2 linked regions of the Homo sapiens genome follow. The protein of the gene in region 1 binds, or shares a complex with, the protein of each later gene. Each region holds a gene or a part of one and is shown in the gene's direction. Other genes may lie near its edges. The genes, in order: THOC7 and THOC2.

Evidence for each region.
Region 2: THOC7 (region 1) and THOC2 share a complex: the UniProt entries of both Homo sapiens proteins name them as parts of the transcription/export (TREX) complex.

What each region holds. Positions count from the first base shown.
Region 1 is NC_000003.12:63,860,065-63,869,423, reverse strand, and holds the start of THOC7 (THO complex subunit 7), read left to right. Parts: upstream 1-5,618; 5' UTR 5,619-5,633; coding exon 5,634-5,652; exon of another isoform or gene 5,653-5,920; intron 5,921-6,228; exon of another isoform or gene 6,229-6,280; intron 6,281-7,604; exon of another isoform or gene 7,605-7,925; intron 7,926-8,427; exon of another isoform or gene 8,428-8,779; intron 8,780-9,359. UniProt on the Homo sapiens protein: Component of the THO subcomplex of the TREX complex which is thought to couple mRNA transcription, processing and nuclear export, and which specifically associates with spliced mRNA and not with unspliced pre-mRNA.
Region 2 is NC_000023.11:123,721,792-123,730,496, reverse strand, and holds part of THOC2 (THO complex subunit 2), read left to right. Parts: intron 1-8,705. UniProt on the Homo sapiens protein: Component of the THO subcomplex of the TREX complex which is thought to couple mRNA transcription, processing and nuclear export, and which specifically associates with spliced mRNA and not with unspliced pre-mRNA.

The sequences.
Region 1 (9,359 bases):
GAAAAGAAAAAGATGTATGATATCTCCTTCTAAAGATGAGAATGTAACTGTCTTCAAAATGGCTACCACTTTCTGAGTACTTACTAGGAGCCTAGGAGTAAGCAAAACTTTTTTGCATTTATTATCCCATTTAATGGTCATCTCCTCTAGACTCAAAGAAGGAGACTGGACCAAGTTGAACACAACCAGAGAGCTCAGGAAATGAGAATCAAGGCCATATTCAAAGCCTAAAGGCTGTGTTCATAACCATTTCCCAACCCAAGGGCAGAAAGCATAAATGATCACCACGAATAAATGACAGGAAAGGTTAAGACTATAGAAATAGTAGAAGCAAGTTTATTTTTATGGCCATAAGCATTATACAGTATTTTATTTACGTATCTCACACTTTCTTTTGACTCATAATGCCCTCTCTTACTTCAGCATTTAAAGTAAAATATGATTCAGTCCTGCCAGACCCTTTCCTATTGACAAAAATCAACACAGGTACCCAACTGTGAAGGCATTTTAAAGACAGCAGAATTAGACAACTAAAGTTATAAGTGTAACTTCCACCCATGAAGTCCCTGGGTTACCTGTGAAGGTCTCAAAACGAAAGGAGTGCTGAAGCACTTTTAGGGGTGATGGACTATAAAGTACATGTGCAGTATTTTAGTTTTTTAATTCAGATTATAAGTGAAGAGAAAATGTTAAATGGAATCTTGCCCACAGAGAGAAATATAATGCTGGTGGGTGGCTATCATTTCTTCCTGCCCAGCAGCATCCATGTCCTCCCCTCTGCCAAATAAACCATCATTTTCCACTTTCCTCTAAATATCTATATTTGGGGACCACTCAATCCTAACTCATTTTTGAAAATCTTTTTCTTAAAAAACAATGTTTTAAGTGTTAATATCTTCATCACACCAATTTGGAAATAATGTACTTATTATCCTATACCATGAATATACATGTTTCCTCAGATGTTTATTAATGGTTCCCCAAACCTGGCTTGTAAGTCCTTCTTGCGGGCCAAAGAGGAGCTAAGACTTTTATACGGGAAACTTCTAGCTAGCCTCCCAACAACTCTACTAGTTAGCCATATCCAGATGAGTAACTGAAGAGTCAAGCAGGGTAAGTAGCTACAGTGAATAAAGGAAACCAAATTTGAATTTTAAGTCTATTTTGACTCAAACTGTGTTTTTCCCATCATGTTCTACTGTCCTGCCAAGGCACAAACACATTTTCTTACAATGATTCCCTTTGAGTCAAATTTCAAATTTTCTGGAGAGAAGAGAGTGGAGCTGAAAGACCCATTTACTCCAACGGCTGGTGTCAAGATCAAATCTTTGCTTATCTACCATCAAACGATCTGGTCTGAATTTTTAGATATAATTTTTTAAAAACACAGCCACAGTACATGCAGGACTAGCACGTCAGACCAGCTTGGCTTATCAACTGATAGGCAATGCTTTGTTGTGGGAATAAAATGGAAGTGCTTTTACACCTCTAAGTCTGAAGACAACTTTATTTATTTATTTGTTTGTTATTTATTTATTTATTTCAGTGTCTTACTCTGTTGCCCAGGCTAGAGTGTAGTGATCTCGGCTCACTGCAACCTCAGCCTCCTGGGTTCAAGTGATTCTCCTGCCTCAGCCTCCTGAGTAGCTGGGATTACAGGCCACACCACCACGCCTAGATAATTTTTTTTGTATTTTTGGTAGAGATGGGGTTTCACCATGTTGGCCAGGCTGCTCTTGAATTTCTGACCTCAAATGATCCACCCGCCTCGGCCTACCTCAAATGATCCACCCGCCTTGGCCTCTCAAAGTGCTGGGATTACAGGCATAAGCCACTGTGCCCAGCCTGAAGATAACTTTAAAAGGCAAGTAACGAGCACACAGATCTACTTTTCAAAAATGTTTTTTTCTCTTTAGAATGGTCATTCTGTGATGGCTCATGACTGTAATCCCAGCACTCTGGGAGGCTGTGGCAGGAGGATCACTTGAGCCCAGGAGGTCAAGGATGCAGTGAGCCAGTTTCATGCAATTGCATTCCAGACTGGGCAACAAAGTGAGACCCTGTTTCAAAAGAAAAAGGAAAAAAGAAGAAAGAAAAGAAAAGAATTCTAACTTCCATTTTATTCAATAAAAAGATGTGTCTCTAATTTTTTTAAGTCCTGGATCTCTTTTCTAAAACAACTACAGACCCTCTTCCAGAAAAATACACATACACAAAAAGTTCTGGTCACAACTACAGGGAGTTCAGGAATCCCTTGAAACCAACCCTTGGAGGGTCACAGACCCCCAGGATAACTCTTGCTCTAAAAGCATAGTACAAAATTCCTTACATTATTTCACAGACCCAGAATAAAGACCATATATAGCTAGCTCTCTCATAATTTTTTATATTTTCAGAAAGCAAATATCAAATAAACACACAAATTTTCTTAACTAGTCTTTCATATTCTCAAAAAAAAAAAAACCCAGAAATCTTATGACTCAAATAAATCAATAAATATAAGGTCATACAAGTTCAAAGTCTGAATCAGTTTTCTTAAAATCTGCTACTTCCATTTCTGTGTTTCTGCCCATAAAGATCTGTCTTGAAAAGAAGAAACATTAGTATGGTAAGGGCTTGAGTCTTTGCTACTTTAACATTCATCAACATGTTAATATGTAAAAAGAAGACCACTTGTAAAGTTTACTAAAAGATGTTCTCTCATATATATGAGATATACGATATGATGAAAAGACAATTCTTAAATGTTCAATGAATAGATCTGTGTCAATGCAATTGCAAGTAAAATCATGTAGCTGACAAAATAGATTTTAGAGTTCATAAAGGCTCAAATTATGTGTTTCCCACCACTTGAGTCAAGAACTTTCAGGCTGGACACAGTGGCTCAAACCCATAATCCCAGCACTTTGGGAGGCTGAGGCGGGAGGATCGCTTGAGCCCAGCAGTTTGAGACCAGCCTGGGCAACATAGTGAGATCATGTCTCTACAAAAATAAAAATAAAAAACTTAGCCAGGCATCATGGAACATGCCGGTAGTCCCAACTAGTTGGTAGGCTGAGATGGGAGGATCACTTGAGCCCAGGAGTTCCAGGCTGCAGTGAGCCCTGATGATCGTGCCACTGCACTCCAGCCTAGGCAACAGAGGAAGGTCCTGTCTCAAAAAAAAATAAAATAACTTTCAGGAATGTTTATTTTCAGGTACAGCTCAAACTTTAAAGTCTTTCAAATTCCTCTTGGTCTTATTACTCCAGAAAATTTCTAGCATCATCCAACAAAATTATAGGTTATCAAATTAACTTATAGAAATGTTTGAACAGCACTCCATTTATGAATAACTCAGAGAGTATCTCACGAAAATTTAAGTTACAGGGGGCAGTGATACTTTCCCATGAAAATATTACAGATTATTTTAAATCACTGACACTGTTTCAAAATCAGTATTATGATAAGATTAAGAAACACTTAAAAAAAACTTTTCACCACATGACAATTACTTTCTTTTTTTTTTTTTTTTTTTTTTTTTTTTTTTGAGATGGAGTCTCGCTCTGTCGCCCAGGCTGGAGTGCAGTGGCGGGATCTGGGCTCACTGCAAGCTCCGCCTCCCGGGTTCACGCCATTCTCCTGCCTCAGCCTCCCAAGTAGCTGGGACTACAGGCGCCCGCCACTACGCCCGGCTAATTTTTTGTATTTTTTTTTAGTAGAGACGGGGTTTCACCGTTTTAGCCGGGATGGTCTCGATCTCTTGACCTCGTGATCCTCCCGCCTCGGCCTCCCAAAGTGCTGGGATTACAGGCGTGAGCCACCGCGCCCGGCCGACAATTACTTTCTAAACAATAACTATCCCCACCAAAATGCAACTTGGTATTGTGAACCCCAATCAATTGACAATTTCAGTTTACAATCTGTAGTACTTAAGATTTAAAACAATTCTTCTCTTAGAGTGCCCTGTCTCCTAAAACCAAGGAAATGAACAGGGTCTGATGATGCCCACCTACAGCCAGCGTTTAGGTCAGTATTTTTTCAAAGTCGGAAACTTCATACCTTAGGGGAGAGCAAGTCACATCTCAGAATCTTCATGTAAAGTAATTTTTGTCTTTGTGACAAAAGTCAAGTTCTTGAGCACTAATTCTTGAGAGCACTGTAATGGTATTATTGAAGTCACTGGTCTCACATAATATGACTAAAATTGTACATATTTCTTGCTAGAGGTTAAACACACTTCACTTTAATACATTTGCATCTGCAACTTCTCCTCTTTGAAAGAACTGGGGGAAAACAGGGAGAATGTACCTAAATTTAGTAAGGAAAGTGAAACAACCAAGTTTATCCTACACAACTTCTTCATCCCGGATATGAAGATGCAAGATCTACTTGGGGGACAGGAAAATTGGAAAACAACGGTATGGCTGAATAAAATAACAAACCTGGGTTCAAAATGAGACACGATCCTGGTGCTAATCGTATCTATCCCACTGGAGGTCAAATCAGCTGCACTGGTGCCTGTTTCCTCATCCACCTCTCACCACCTAAACGTGCCATTTACGAGAAAGCTATCGAAGTTGAATCAAAGTGACTTTTGGAAAGAGATGCCAATATAATTTGCAGTGTGCTCCAAACAACTACACACAAGGCAACGTTTCTCATTGAGCACCCCCGCCCCCACTTTCAACTTCCCCTTAAGATAGGGACAGTCACATAGACATTTTTTGAAAATCAAAGAGAAAAATAAAAGCACCCCATCACGATCACCGACGAAATCCCGACTCTGTGGTGGAATTGGGTGCCGGGTGAGGACGATGGCAACACGCTCCTGGTCGCTTCGCGAACTCCTCCGGGAGGTCGCCAAGTTTCTCTTTCACCCTTTTTCCCGCACCCGCCGAGCCCAGGAAGGAAGGGGGCGGCCGCAGGGGCCGGAACCGCGCGACCTGGAACCCGGGGCCTTTTTTGATTGCCGGCCGCGCCCCGCGCAAGTGCCGGCGTTCGAGACCCGCCCCAGCGCGCGTGGGCGCCAACTTCGCGGGGACCCCCAGCGACGCGCCCCCCTCGGTACCCCTAGTCCCGCCTCTCCTGGGCTCAGCCGGATCCGGGCGTCCCCGTCACCCTCCCCACCCCCCAGGGAAACGAGCCCACCCCTAGCAGCGTCACCCTGGATGGGGCGGCGGGGCCGCAGTCACCTTCCCGGGGAAGAAGCCGGGACCCCGACTGCGGGCGGCCCGCAGCTCCCGCCGCACCCCCGCAGCCCTGGCGGCGTCCGGGCGAGCTCACCTGGCGGCTGGCTGCGGCCTCCGGGGCGGCCTCTGGGCGTGGGCCGGGCGGGGGCTGCAAGGGGGGCGGCGGGAGCCCGGGCTGCAGCCGGGGCCGCCGCCGGCCGCCAAGCCTCGCCCCAACTCGCGCCGGCCGCGGCCGCCCCCGGGGAGTACCGGGAGCGCGGGGAGCGCGGGTCCCGCGGCGGCGGCGGCGGCGGCGGCGGCGCGGCGCGGCGCGGCTCAGGCGTCGGAGCAGGCGGCCGCGGGCGCCGCCGCCTCCTCCTCCATGGCTGTTTACCCGGCTGCATTGTGGGAGTTTGACCTCCGCCGCCGCCAACCGCCGCCTCAGCTTGCGCCGCCGCCGCCGCCGCCGCCGCCGCGCACGCCATGGGAGCCGTGACTGACGGTGAGGCCCCGCTCGCCGCCACACGCGCCCGCTGCACGGCCCGCTGGGCCTCCCCTGAGACCCCTGGCCTCCCGGCCCGCTTCCGGGAACCCCTCGGCCTCCCCGGCCTCTTCGCCAGAGCGCTTCGGCCTTCCCGACCTCTCCCCGGAGCCCCGGGCCTCCCCGGCTGCTTCCCTGAGTCCTTCCTCCTCTCGCCAGAGCCCGAGCGCCCCTCGGAGACCCTCGGCTTTCCCCGTCCGCTCTCCCGGAGGCAGCGCGGGGCTATAGGGTGTGCCGGGAGCGTGGTCGGTGGGCTGGGAACACACGTGGGTGGCCGAGACGGCTAGAAGCGGTGCAAGGGCGGGTGGGACCAGAGGGAGTCCGGGTTTGTCTAGGGGCGCGGTGAGGACCCAGGAGCCGCGAAGGGTGGACAGTGGTGCCGGGCTTAGGGCTGGGGGCCTGGAAGGTTTGTGGAGGTCTGGGAGGGAGTGGGAGCTCCAGGGACGGGGCGGGAATTTCGGGACTCGTCTACAAGGGGTGTCAGGATACAGAGCGTGACACCAGGAGGGGTCCTGGGGCATATTGGGAAGCACTCACAGACAGTGGAGTCGATGGCAATGAGGCCTTGAACTGCGAGTGGATTGTGGGTGAGAAGGAGGAGCAGGGAATTATTTATAAAAGGAATAGATAGGGATGAGGTATCCGGAGGGTGATCAGGAAGTGTACCTGGGAGATTTACGGGGGTAAGGAGGAGCCAGTATAGTGATGAGACCGTCTAGGGTAGATCAGGACGATAAAAGATGTATGTGTGTGTGTTAGGAAGGGTGGTTGTCAGCTGGGATGAATTTAGAGGGGCAAAGGCTGGGTTTGTGGACAGTCTAAGGGAGATGGTCTATGGACTGAGAGCGGAAATAAGGTGACACTTTGGGGGAAGGGGCATGATTGGCAACTGGAGGGAGAACCTACAAGGTATCTGGTTAGGGAGGAAGGAGGTCCTTTGATATCTGGGAAGGGGATATCTAGGGCTCTTGGGTGTTTTTCAGGAGATGGTGACCGGTAACTGTAAATGCCTGTGGAGAGGCCACTTCTTAAGAGTTGAAGACCACCAGGGTCTCCACATTAAAGGGCCTGGCCATGGGAAGAACAGTGATAGGCCCAAATTTCCAGACTGATAAAGAGTAGTGGAGGTGGGAGGCTACTAAAGACCCAGGAACTTCATGTGGAATTTCAGCTTTGCTTCATTCCAGTTTCATTTATTTAGTGGATATTTATCCTTCCTGGACTAGGCTTTGGGATTACAACCCAGAACTAACAAGCAAGAACTTTTCCCTCTCCAAAATTTTGGTCTGAAGGGAAAGAAACATTGACTAATGAGTTTTAAGAGTGACAAATATTACCACAAGGAAGTACAAGGTTGGGAACTGTAGGAACATGTAACAAAGATTATTTATCCAATCAATGGAAATGAGAAAGCCTCCTCGAAGTTAATCCCATTTTTGAAGAATAAATAGATATTGGACTGGTGTTCTGGGTTGGTAGCCACTTGTATAAAGACCCCAAGATGTTGGAAGAACTCAAAGCTGACAAGTATTGCTAGAATTTAGAAAGTTATGAGCCAGAGATCTCTAAGGGCAATAGGAATCCATTAAAAGTTTTAACACTGGTGTGGTGTTAATCAGATTGGCATTAAAACACACACACATGCCGGGCACAGTGGCTCACGCCTGTAATCCCAACACTTTGGGAGGCCAAGGCAGGCGGACCTCTTGAGCTCAGAAGTTCAAGACCAGCCTGGAAAACATAGTGAGACCCCATGTCTACAAATACAAAAAAATTGGTCTGGCACAGTGGCACACACCTGTAGTCCCAGGACTTGGGAGTCTGAGGAGAAAGGATCACTTGAGCCTGGGAGGTTGAGGCTGCAGTGAGCCAAGATCGCGCCAGTGCACTCCAGTCTGGGTGACAGAGTGAGACCGTGTCTCATTAAAAAAAAAAAAAACACACACACACATACACACTGTCTCTGTTATGTGCAGAATGATTAGAGGAAGAGAAAATGAGGAGCTAAGTTTCCTCGCCACTTACTAACGTTTACGTAGTGCTGTTAGGTATTATTCTAATTGTTATCCCCATTTTACAGATGAAACAGACACAGGTTAGCTTGCCTAAGGTCGCACAGATAGTAGTTATAGAGGGTCAAAGGCAGGGAGACCACCTGCCGAGTTCCTGCTCTTCACTATTATGCGTCCTGTGTCTGCTACTTCTGCAGTGGCCCTGGTGAGAGACAATGAGGACTGTGACCAAGAGGGAATGCAAAGAGGACAGGTGGGAGGGAAATAGGGAAATTTGTGAGGTAGAATGTCAGGACTTCAGGTATTGAATGGATGGTGGGAGAAGGGATTTAGGATGATCCCAGGTTTTTGACTTCACTGTGTGCCTGTTAGTGCTACTTTTCTATTTATTGAGATTGAGATGTCCAAAGGAGCAACAGGCTTTGTCAGATGGGAGATAGGGACAGAAGATGAGTTCTAAAGTAATGACTGCAGTCAAGTGCCCCCCCACATCCTTAAAAGCCACAGGAATCTCTACCCTGCCACTTACAGACTGTCTCAGCTTCAGTCTCTGAACGGAGATAATAATAAAATCCACATCAGCGGATTGTTTTGAGGATTAAACACAAAAAGTTGTAAAGGGCTTTGCATTGAGTCCAACACATAATAATTAATATTCAGTAAATATTAATGTCAGAGTTGTTTTACTAATCTGTCTTCCACTTTCCTTTGATGTGGACTTTGCCTTCTCTCTTAATCTGCACAGGTTGCCTTTTCCTGCCTTTTCTATCAGGTGACACTCCACTTATTCCTCAAGACCCACCTCAAAAATCCCCTCTTTTCTTTCCTAGAAGTAGTTGACCTTCTGCCTACTAGCCATATTATTTTATGCATATTGCTGCTGTCACCCTTAATACGTTATTTATATGCCTTATGCTAGAAAACATTTAAGGCAGTTCACTGTAATGAGAAAATATAAAAATTAAACGGATTAGAAAACAAGACAAAAAGAACATTGAGATTAGGAAAAATAAAGGGAAGTCAGAAGTGGGGTGATCCTCAAAATGCAGGAGGATAAAGTCTAGTACATTAATTAACCAAGCTGTAAGTGACCTGTTTCTCCAGTAGGCCATTCTGAGAGGCAGGACCTCGTCTGCTCTGTGATCTAGTGTTCATGAGAGAAGGCAATCTTAGATGCCCAGGAAAAGCACTTTTTTTTTCTGATTTGAACTAGAGGAAAAGTTTATCATTGAGGTCTTTATAAATGAAAGCCAGTGTCATATCCTTAACCTCTTTTCAGCACTGAAGATCATAGAGCTGTTTTGTAGCACATCCCTTGCTAGGTAAAAGAAGGCTAAATCACAATTTAGAAAGACATTCTAAAGCCAGTAGAGGCTGGGTGTGGTAGCTCACACCTGTAATCAATCTTAGCACTTTGGGATGCTAAGGCAGGAGGATCACGTGAGCCCAGGAGTTTGCGACCATCCTAAGCAACACAGCAAGACATGATCTATACTACAGAATTTTTCAAATTAGCCAGGCGTGTGTGGTGGTGTGCACCTGTAGTCTCAGCTACTCATCTCTACTAAAAATTTTCTTAAATTAGCCAGGTGGAGTGGAACACACCTGTAGGTAGTCCCAGCTACTCAGGAGGCTGAGGCAGGAGGATCACTTGAG
Region 2 (8,705 bases), on another chromosome or scaffold:
CTTAAAAACTGTTATTAGAAGCCGAGCGTGGTGGCTCACGCCTGTAATCCCAGCAAATTGGGAGGCCGAGGCGGGTGGATCACCTGAGGTCAGGAGTTCCAGACAAGCCTGACCAACATGGAGAAACCCCATCTCTACTAAAAGTACAAAATTTGCCGAGCGTGGTGGCACATGCCTGTAATCCCAGCTACTCAGGAGGCTGAGGCGGGAGAATCGCTTGAATCTGGGAGGCGGAAGTTGCGGTGAGCGGAGATCGCGCTGTTGCACTCCAGCATGGGTAACAAGAGCGAAACTCTTTAAAAAAAAAAAAAAAACAAAAACCCAAACAAAAACAAACCAAAAACAACAGCAAAAAAACCTGTTATTAGAACTTACGTGTATGTAGTTATTGCATGACTTGTGGAATGTGGATTGAATTATAGTAGATCCAAATCAGTATAGTCAGTTTTATGATTGCATTCTGTTACAGGAAGAGAATTTAAAATTGTGTAACATAATAAGCTATTTTAAATAGTTAAACACATCACCATCCAGTACTTAGTTTCAGTTTATTTGACCTGTTTTCCCTCTATGAAACTTTGTTGCATATAGCATGTCTTTGGAGTTTTTGTGTCTTCCTAAAGATAGGTGTTAGCATTTTCATATTACTAGGCAGAATACGTGGTGGTGCAAATATATTACAAAAAACCTTTTTCCTTTGTCTGAAAACAGCTTCTGAAATATAAAACAGCAACTGGAAATGTTAAAAATGAAGGTAGTGTGCCACCACATTATTAGTGAAGCTATAGATTTGGCGTTTAGAATATGACCAATATTTAAAATTATACCTTGGGTGAATTTTTCCTTTTTAACAAGATAAATTAGCAGATAAGCTTTAACTTGACTGAAAATTATCTTTTTAAAAATAATGTGATATATTTCATGAGGTTGTTAATTCATTTCTTGTCTGTCACTTCTTACCAGCATAAATCTTTTCTGGGGGTGGTAGTCAGCTAGTGTTGAAAGCAACATAAGAGATGTATGGGGCATTTTATAACTTTCAGATAGGGCAAATTCTTAACTGTACGCCATGAAAAACAACTGTCTATTAAATGGAAGGTCTTGACTTTGAAGAATGTTTTATTAGGTAATTAGAGAGAAAAGTAAAACTGTATTTTGCCTATCTGAATGGTCCATCCATCACATATCTAGATATCCCATTATGTTTCCAGAGATACCAATTATGTTTTTAATGCTAAATTATAGAACTCTTAAAGAGTGACCTTTAAAGTGATCTTAAAGAGGGATCAGAAGGGCAAAGGAGGACTACCAAAATGTAATTGTAATTTCCAATAATACTTATATCTAAATGCAAACTCTTCCAAATTCTGAAAGATATGTATTTAATCACTTAATTTTGGAATTAGTTTTAGTTTCTTGATTATTTTATATTGACGTAGAACTTGCCATGATGAAGCTAATAAACTTGCATGTACTGGTAGATCCAGTGTAGAATTCTGTTTTTGGTAGAAATCATTAACACAGTGAACTCAGCATTTCTTTGTTACAGGCAACCTTAATGGAGAATTGATATTCGAAGCTCTTAATCTGAAGATGCTAGCCTCATGTTAATACTTAGTCTAATTTTGAAATACTTACGTTTGTTGAATATCATCTGTTTGTTTGAATAGCTTATTTAGGTATCAATTAGAAAGTTTTGTTAGGTCTTACCTTATTAATGGTAGTTACAATAAAGTTTTAAAATTTAATTGCCAAATGTTTTGATTGTTGTTCTTTTTCTTCTTCTGCTACTACATGATTTTAGACATTCTAGAACTTATTTAAGTATATTTGGTTGTTCAGAACATGCCATCTGATCTGAATTTCTTGGAGGATTCCAGGTAAAGGGATATAATCATTCTAAGAAATTTTAGTCTTGGTGGTTGAGTCTTTTTTCCTCGCAAAGTTGCTCCAAATTCAGCCAAAGCTTTATCTGAAACCTTTTCTTGATGTCTCAGTTTTCATTTAGCATTTAATTTCCCATTTCGACCTGTATTCATAAGCTAAGTATAAGTCTTAGTCTGTTTTCCTGGGAAGAGAAACATTCTTCACAAAATGTTGAAGCAATGTCAGGAGGTTGTATAGGCTACTACTTTGTTTGTTAAAAAAAATTATTCTGTAATGCTCTAACGTTTAGGTAGGGTGAGTGCTGTCAATATACTTGTGCTTTTTTCCTACTGTAAGTGCGGCAACTCCTGTTGTCTTTTTTTTTTTTAACATTTCCTGTTTCCTTTTCTTTTAAATGCATGTTTCTACAAGATAAAACTGTGTTGTCCCAGTATTCATTTTTGTGGGTTATGTTTCTGTTCTACAAATGATAATAGAGGTAGCACTTTATTTAACTACATTTAACCTTTTTGTTGTCTTGTTTTAAAGAATTAAGTGAAGCGTAAATGAACATCAGCCTTCTATATATGAAAGCCACATTTGAGATGTGAGCATAATCAAGTAGTTTAAGCTTGTGACTCTGTTTCCTTTTTACTGGAAAATGGGAACAAGTAAGATGAAAAGCCGTATACTCATGTTAAGAAGTATTCACAAAATACCTTTTAAGTCCTTGAAGGAACTTCAGACATTTTATTCAGTTTTCCATACATCTTTTGACAGAAAGTAGATTCTGTCCTCATTCTCAGGGACCTGAGACAGCATCTCCATAATAGCACTAAACTATTTTAAAAGTAGAAAAAATGAATGCCTGGCGTGGTGGCATGTAAGGTGGTGTGCACTGTGGCACACACCTGTAATCCCAGCTACTTGGGCAACTGAGGCAGGAGGAAGGATTGCCTGAGCCCAGGAGAGCTCTGGGCGACATAGCGAGAACCTATCTCTATTTTTATTTTTAAAAAATTAAATTAAAAAGTGGAAAAATGGTAAACTCAAGTATTTGAAAGTTATTAAGGGATTAAAATAATTTCAATTTGGACTGAGACAGAAAATTTGATTATTTTTAAGCGATATTAAAGTGGGCAACTATTAGAGGTAGTTTTGTTTTTTCCTCTCCCTATAATTTAGGTTAGTGACCTAAAACCATTAGGCAGGTGTATAGTAAGACAAATGTAATGTTCAGAAACAGTTTCTTTAAGAATCCTTGGTGGACTTCTATTAGTGAATTACTTAGGGAGAAGAGCACAGATACATCTACTTGTTGGGGAAAAATCTCAGTGTTTGTTTTTAGTTTCTTGTTATAACTAAGGAATACCTGTTTTTTTTTTATTAAAAAATTTATTTTTAACTAAGTTTTTTTTGAGACAGGGTCTTGCTTTGTCACCTAGGCTGGAGTGCAGGCGATCACGGCTCACTGCAGGCTTGACCCCACCAGGCTCAAGGGATTTTCCTGCCTCAGCCTCCTGAATTGCTAGGGCTACAGGTGCATGCCACCATGCCTGGCTAATTAAAAACATTTTTTTGTGCGGGTGTATGAGTAGGGATGGGGTTTTGCTATATTGCCCAGGCTGGTCATAAACTCCTGGCTTCAAGTGATCCTCCCCCCTCAGCCTCCCAAAGTGCTGGGATTACAGGCATGAGCCACTACGCCCAGCCAAAGGAATACCTCTTTTATACTAGGGAAATGTAAGTATCTATTATGCAAACAAATTGCCTTATTGTAATAACCTTTCAATGGTTCCATATGCAACTTGAGCAAATCTTTGAGATTCTAACTAATAGTTCATGATGACATTGTCATCTGTGTCCTAATGAACATGTTTGTAGCCTGGTGACTGACAATATAGAATTATATTTCAATTATTTCTTAAAGTTATGTAATGATGACTGTACCATTAGTCTAGGTAGGAGTTTGCAACACTGATGCAACCTCTTCCCCGCAACCATTGGAAGGCTTTTTGCAAAAGACATGCATTAAGATTGTTAAATAGAAATGAAACTATTGAAAATGTGAGGAAGCAAGTGCATTGTTATAAGGAGAAGTTTTTTTTTTTTTTTTTTGAGACAGGGTCTCACTCTGTTGCCCAGGCTGGAGTGCAGTGGCACGATCTTGGCTCACTGCAGCCTTGACCTCCTGGGCTCAAGTGAATAAGGAGGAATTTTAAACAATTATTTTATTTCTCTTTCTTTCTCATCCTTTCCTTTTCCTTTCCTCTTTTTCTTTTTTCTCTTTTTCTATATGAAGGAATATTTGAAATTGCATTTTAGTAGCCCGAGTACAAAGGGAAAGATGAGTTACTTTATTCTGTTAAATTCTTCTTTCAAAGACATGGTGCTTCCTGCTATTATTATTATTATTTTTTTTGAGACAGAGTCTCACTCTGTCGCCCAGGCTGGAGTGCAGTGGTGCGATCTCGACCCACTACAACCTCCGCTTCCTGGGTTCAGGTGATTCTCCTGCCTCAGCTTCCTGAGTAGCTGGGATTACAGGCATTGGCCACCAAGCCCGGCTAATTTTTGTAGTTTTAGTAGAGACGGGGTTTCACCATATTGGCTAGGCTAGTCTCAAACTCTTGACCTCAAGTAATCTGCCCTCCTCGGCCTCTTAAAAGTGCTGGGATTATAGGTGTGAGCCACGGTGCCTGGCCCCTGCTATTATATTCTAAAGAGAATTGACCCTATAAGGGAAATGAGAACCCAAAGAGGGAATTGTTTTAATACTTCATAGTAAATATTGAAGCAACCTTGATATACTTATATATCTCCTCTCCACAAAAGACCTAGATGGCATTTTTAGGTTATATCTTCTGATGCTAGTCTGAAGCAGATGTTATTTCTGTGTTGCCTGGTGGAAGGAAGATTGATTTTGTTTTATATTCCAGATAAACTTATGTTAGGTTTAACGTATTTTGTGAAATTAGAAGCTTAATCGTGGTTTTTTTTTTTTTTTTTTTTTTGAGATAGGGTCTCACTCTGTTCCCCAGGCTGCCCAGGCTGGAGTGCAGTGGTACTACGATCACCACTCACTGCAGCCTCGACCTGCAGGCTCAAGTGATCCTCCCAGCTCAACCTCCCAAGTAGCTGGGATTATAGGCATGTGCCACCACACTTGGCTACTTTTTTTTTCTATTTTTTTTTTTTTTTTGTAGAGATGGGGTCTCACTTGTTGGCTAGGCTGGCTAGGCTGGTCTTGTACTCCTGTGCTCAAGTGATCCTCCCACTTCGGCCTCCCAAAGTGTTGGGATTACAGGCATGAGCCAGCATATCCAACTTTAACCAGTGTTCTTAACCAACCACTGTTCTCTTCTCAACCCATTAGAAGGCCTGTCTAGTTCTCCAGGGAAGTAGTTGAAAGTACTTGGGATCAAACTTAAACCAGCTTACCATTTGTAAGGTACTCTCAGAATAATTTTTTTAGTGAGAAATGTTTAATAGCTAAATGACATTTTCTTTCTTTGTTTTTGTTTTTGAGATGGGATCTTGCTCTGTCACCCTGGAGTGCAGGCTGGAGTGCAGTGGTGCGATCATGGCTCACTGGTGTGATCTTGGCTCACTGCAGTCTCAACTTCCTGGGCTCTGGCGATCCTCCCACCTCAGCCTCCTGAGTAGCTGGGCCCACAGGCGCGTGCTACCATGCTCTGCTAATTGTTTGTGTTTTTGGTAGAGACAGGGTTTCACCACGTTACGAGGCTGGTCTTGAACTCCTGAGCTCAGGTGATATTACCAGGCTGGTCTCGAACTCCTGAGCTCAAGTGATTCACCCACCTTGGCCTCCCAAAGTGCTGGGATTACAGACGTGAGCTACTATGCCTGGCCTGACATTTTCAAACTAAATATTTAATTTAGTAGATGCTCTCCATTGCCCTTATTTTTTATTTTTATTTTTTCTGAGACAGAGTCTCGCTCTGTTGCCCAGGTTGGAGTGCGGTGATGCAGTCTTGGCTCACTGCAACCTCTGCCTCCTGGGTTCATGCGATTCTCCTGCCTCAGCCTGTAGAGTAGCTGGGATTACAGGTGCGCACCACTGCGTCCAGCTAATTTTTGTATTTTTAGTGGAGACGAGGTTTCATCATGTTGGCCAGGCTGGTCTCAAACTCTTGACCTCAACTGATCCACCCACCTTAGCCTCCCAGAGTTCTGGGACTACAGGTGTGAGCTACAGTGCCCGGCTTCCATTGCCTTTTTATTTTTTGGTTTTGAACATATTTGTGAAACCTAGAAGTGAATTGTTGACCAGCAAAAGTTTACTCTGTTGACTTTTAATAACCTTACCCTGCTCATCCTGATGATAGGGTATTGACATAATCAGAAGGCACAGAGGTGAGCTGCAAGGTTATGTATAATCTGCAAAGTAGATAATCTCTCTGTGGATGATTGTAATCTGGCATCTTATTTAGCCTTAGATGTGATATATAAGCAGGTTCTGTAAGTCTTAAAATTATTTGTTTCATTGACTAGAAAAAGGATTACTAGATATAAAAGAGTAAGAAACTCTTCTATATGAATTCATTGGCTCTCTTTAAAGCCTTGTGCAACATGGAAGAATTTTTTTCTAAATTGTGAAATGTAATGAAAATACAGAGAAGTCATGAAACCTCAATATAGAGCTTAAAATAATCACTGTAAGATGCACCCCCATGTAACTTACACCCAGGTCAAGGCAACATACTGTTTGTTCCCGATCAAACCTTTCCCACCTCTCATGTAGTAAACATTATCCTGACATTTATGGTTTTCCTCTTGATTTTTCTCTTTTTTTAACCTTGCATCTTCAACTCAAAGAAACTTTCTTGATTTTCTTTGCAGTGTCATTACCCAATATGTTTAATTTTTTTCTTGAACTTCATATAAATGAAATCATTGAATATTTATCCTACTGTTTCTGGCTGCTTTTGTTCAACAGTTATGACTTTTAAGATTCATCCATATTGTATGTTTGCAGTTCATTGATTTTCCTTTTTTTTTTAGTTCATTCATTTTCATAGTTGCAAGATACTCCATCGTATACCAGTATTTGTTTATTTTTATGCTGTCTTGTTAAACATTTTTGTTGCGTCTAGTTTTTGGCTATTACTAACAGTGCCAATAGAAACATTATTATACAACAGTTTTGGTGTATACAAGCATGTGTTTTTGTGGAGTATATACTAGGTGTAGAATCTCTGGGTTATAGGTTACACTTTAGCTCTGTTAGATATTGCCAGGCTATTTCAGTGTACACTCCCACCAGCAGTGTATGAGTTGACCTTGTTTCACATTGTCACTATGTTTGATATTGTCAGACTTAAATTTTTTGTAAATATGTATGTAATTTTACTGTGGCTTATATTTCCATGAGCATCTTTTTATATGTTATTGGTCATTTGGAGTACTTCTTTTTTTTTGTTTGTTTGAGACAGAGTCTTGCTCTGTCGCCTAGTTTGGAGTGCGGTGGTGGCGTGATCTTGGCTCACTGCAACCTCTGCCTCCCGAGTTCAAGCGATTCTTGTGCCTCAGCCTCCTGAGTAGCTGGGATTACAGGTGTGTGCCACCACACCTGGCTAATTTTTGTGTTTTTAGTAGAGACAGGGTTTCACCATGTTGGGCAGGCTGGTCTTGAACTCCGGACCTCCGATGATCCGCCCGCCTTGGCCTCCCAAAGTGCTGGGATTACAGACGTGAGCCACCACGCCTGTACTGGAGTTCTTATTTCTTTTTGTGAAAGGTCTCTGTCATATCTTTTGCCTTTTTTGTTATTGAGTTGCTTGAGTTTCTTTCACTGATTTGTAGGGGTTCTTTATATAGTCTGTATTTGAGCCCTTTTTGGGTTACACTGCATGTGTTACAACTGTCATTTTTTTTTAATTTTAAGTTCTGGGATACATGTGCAGAATGTGCAGGTTTGTTACATAGGCATACATTTGCCATGGTGGTTTGCTGCACCTATCAACCTGTCATCTAAGTTTTAAGCCCCACGTGCATTAGGTATGTGTCCTAATGCTCTCCCTCCCCTTGCTCCCCAACCCCCAACAGGCACCAGTGTGTGATGTTCCTGTCCCTGTGTCCATGTGTTCTCATTGTTCAGCTCTCACTTATGAGTGAGAACATGTGGTGTTTGGTTTTTTTGTTCCTGTGTTAGTTTGCTGAGAATGATGGTTTCCAGCTTCATCCATGTCCCTGCAAAGGACATGAACTCATCCTTTTTTATGGTTGCATAGTATTCCATGGTATATATGTGCCACATTTTCTTTATCCAGTCTATCATTGATGGGCATTTGGGTTGGTACCAAGTTTTTACTCTTGTGAATAGTGCTGCAGTGAACATACGTGTGCATGTGTCTTTATAGTAGAATGATTTATAATCCTTTGGGTATATACCCAGTAATGGGATTGCTGAGTCAAATGGTATTTCTGGTTCTAGATCCTTGGGGAATCACCACACTGTCTTCCACAATGGTTGAACTAATTTACTCCCCCACCAACAGTGTAAAAGCGTATCATCGGCAGCAAATACTCTGTTGTTTTCCTTGAAGTGACAGGCTCACTTGGTTCAGTTTTGAGAAAATGCCTGTGAAAGACCCATGTCTTAAAAACCATAGTTTGCTTTTCTTTCAAGTAAAAAATGGTGTTTCATAAAAACAAGCTAGTTCAGCTTGCAATTCAAACAATCGCACAAGTGCTTTACCTGTAGACAAATACTGTGGTTGTATTTGGGTGTGTGGCAGAAATTATTTATGCAACCTTTTAAATTTCATCATATAGGCTATTGAAAGGATGTGTTATTTTTTAATTTTAATTTTTTT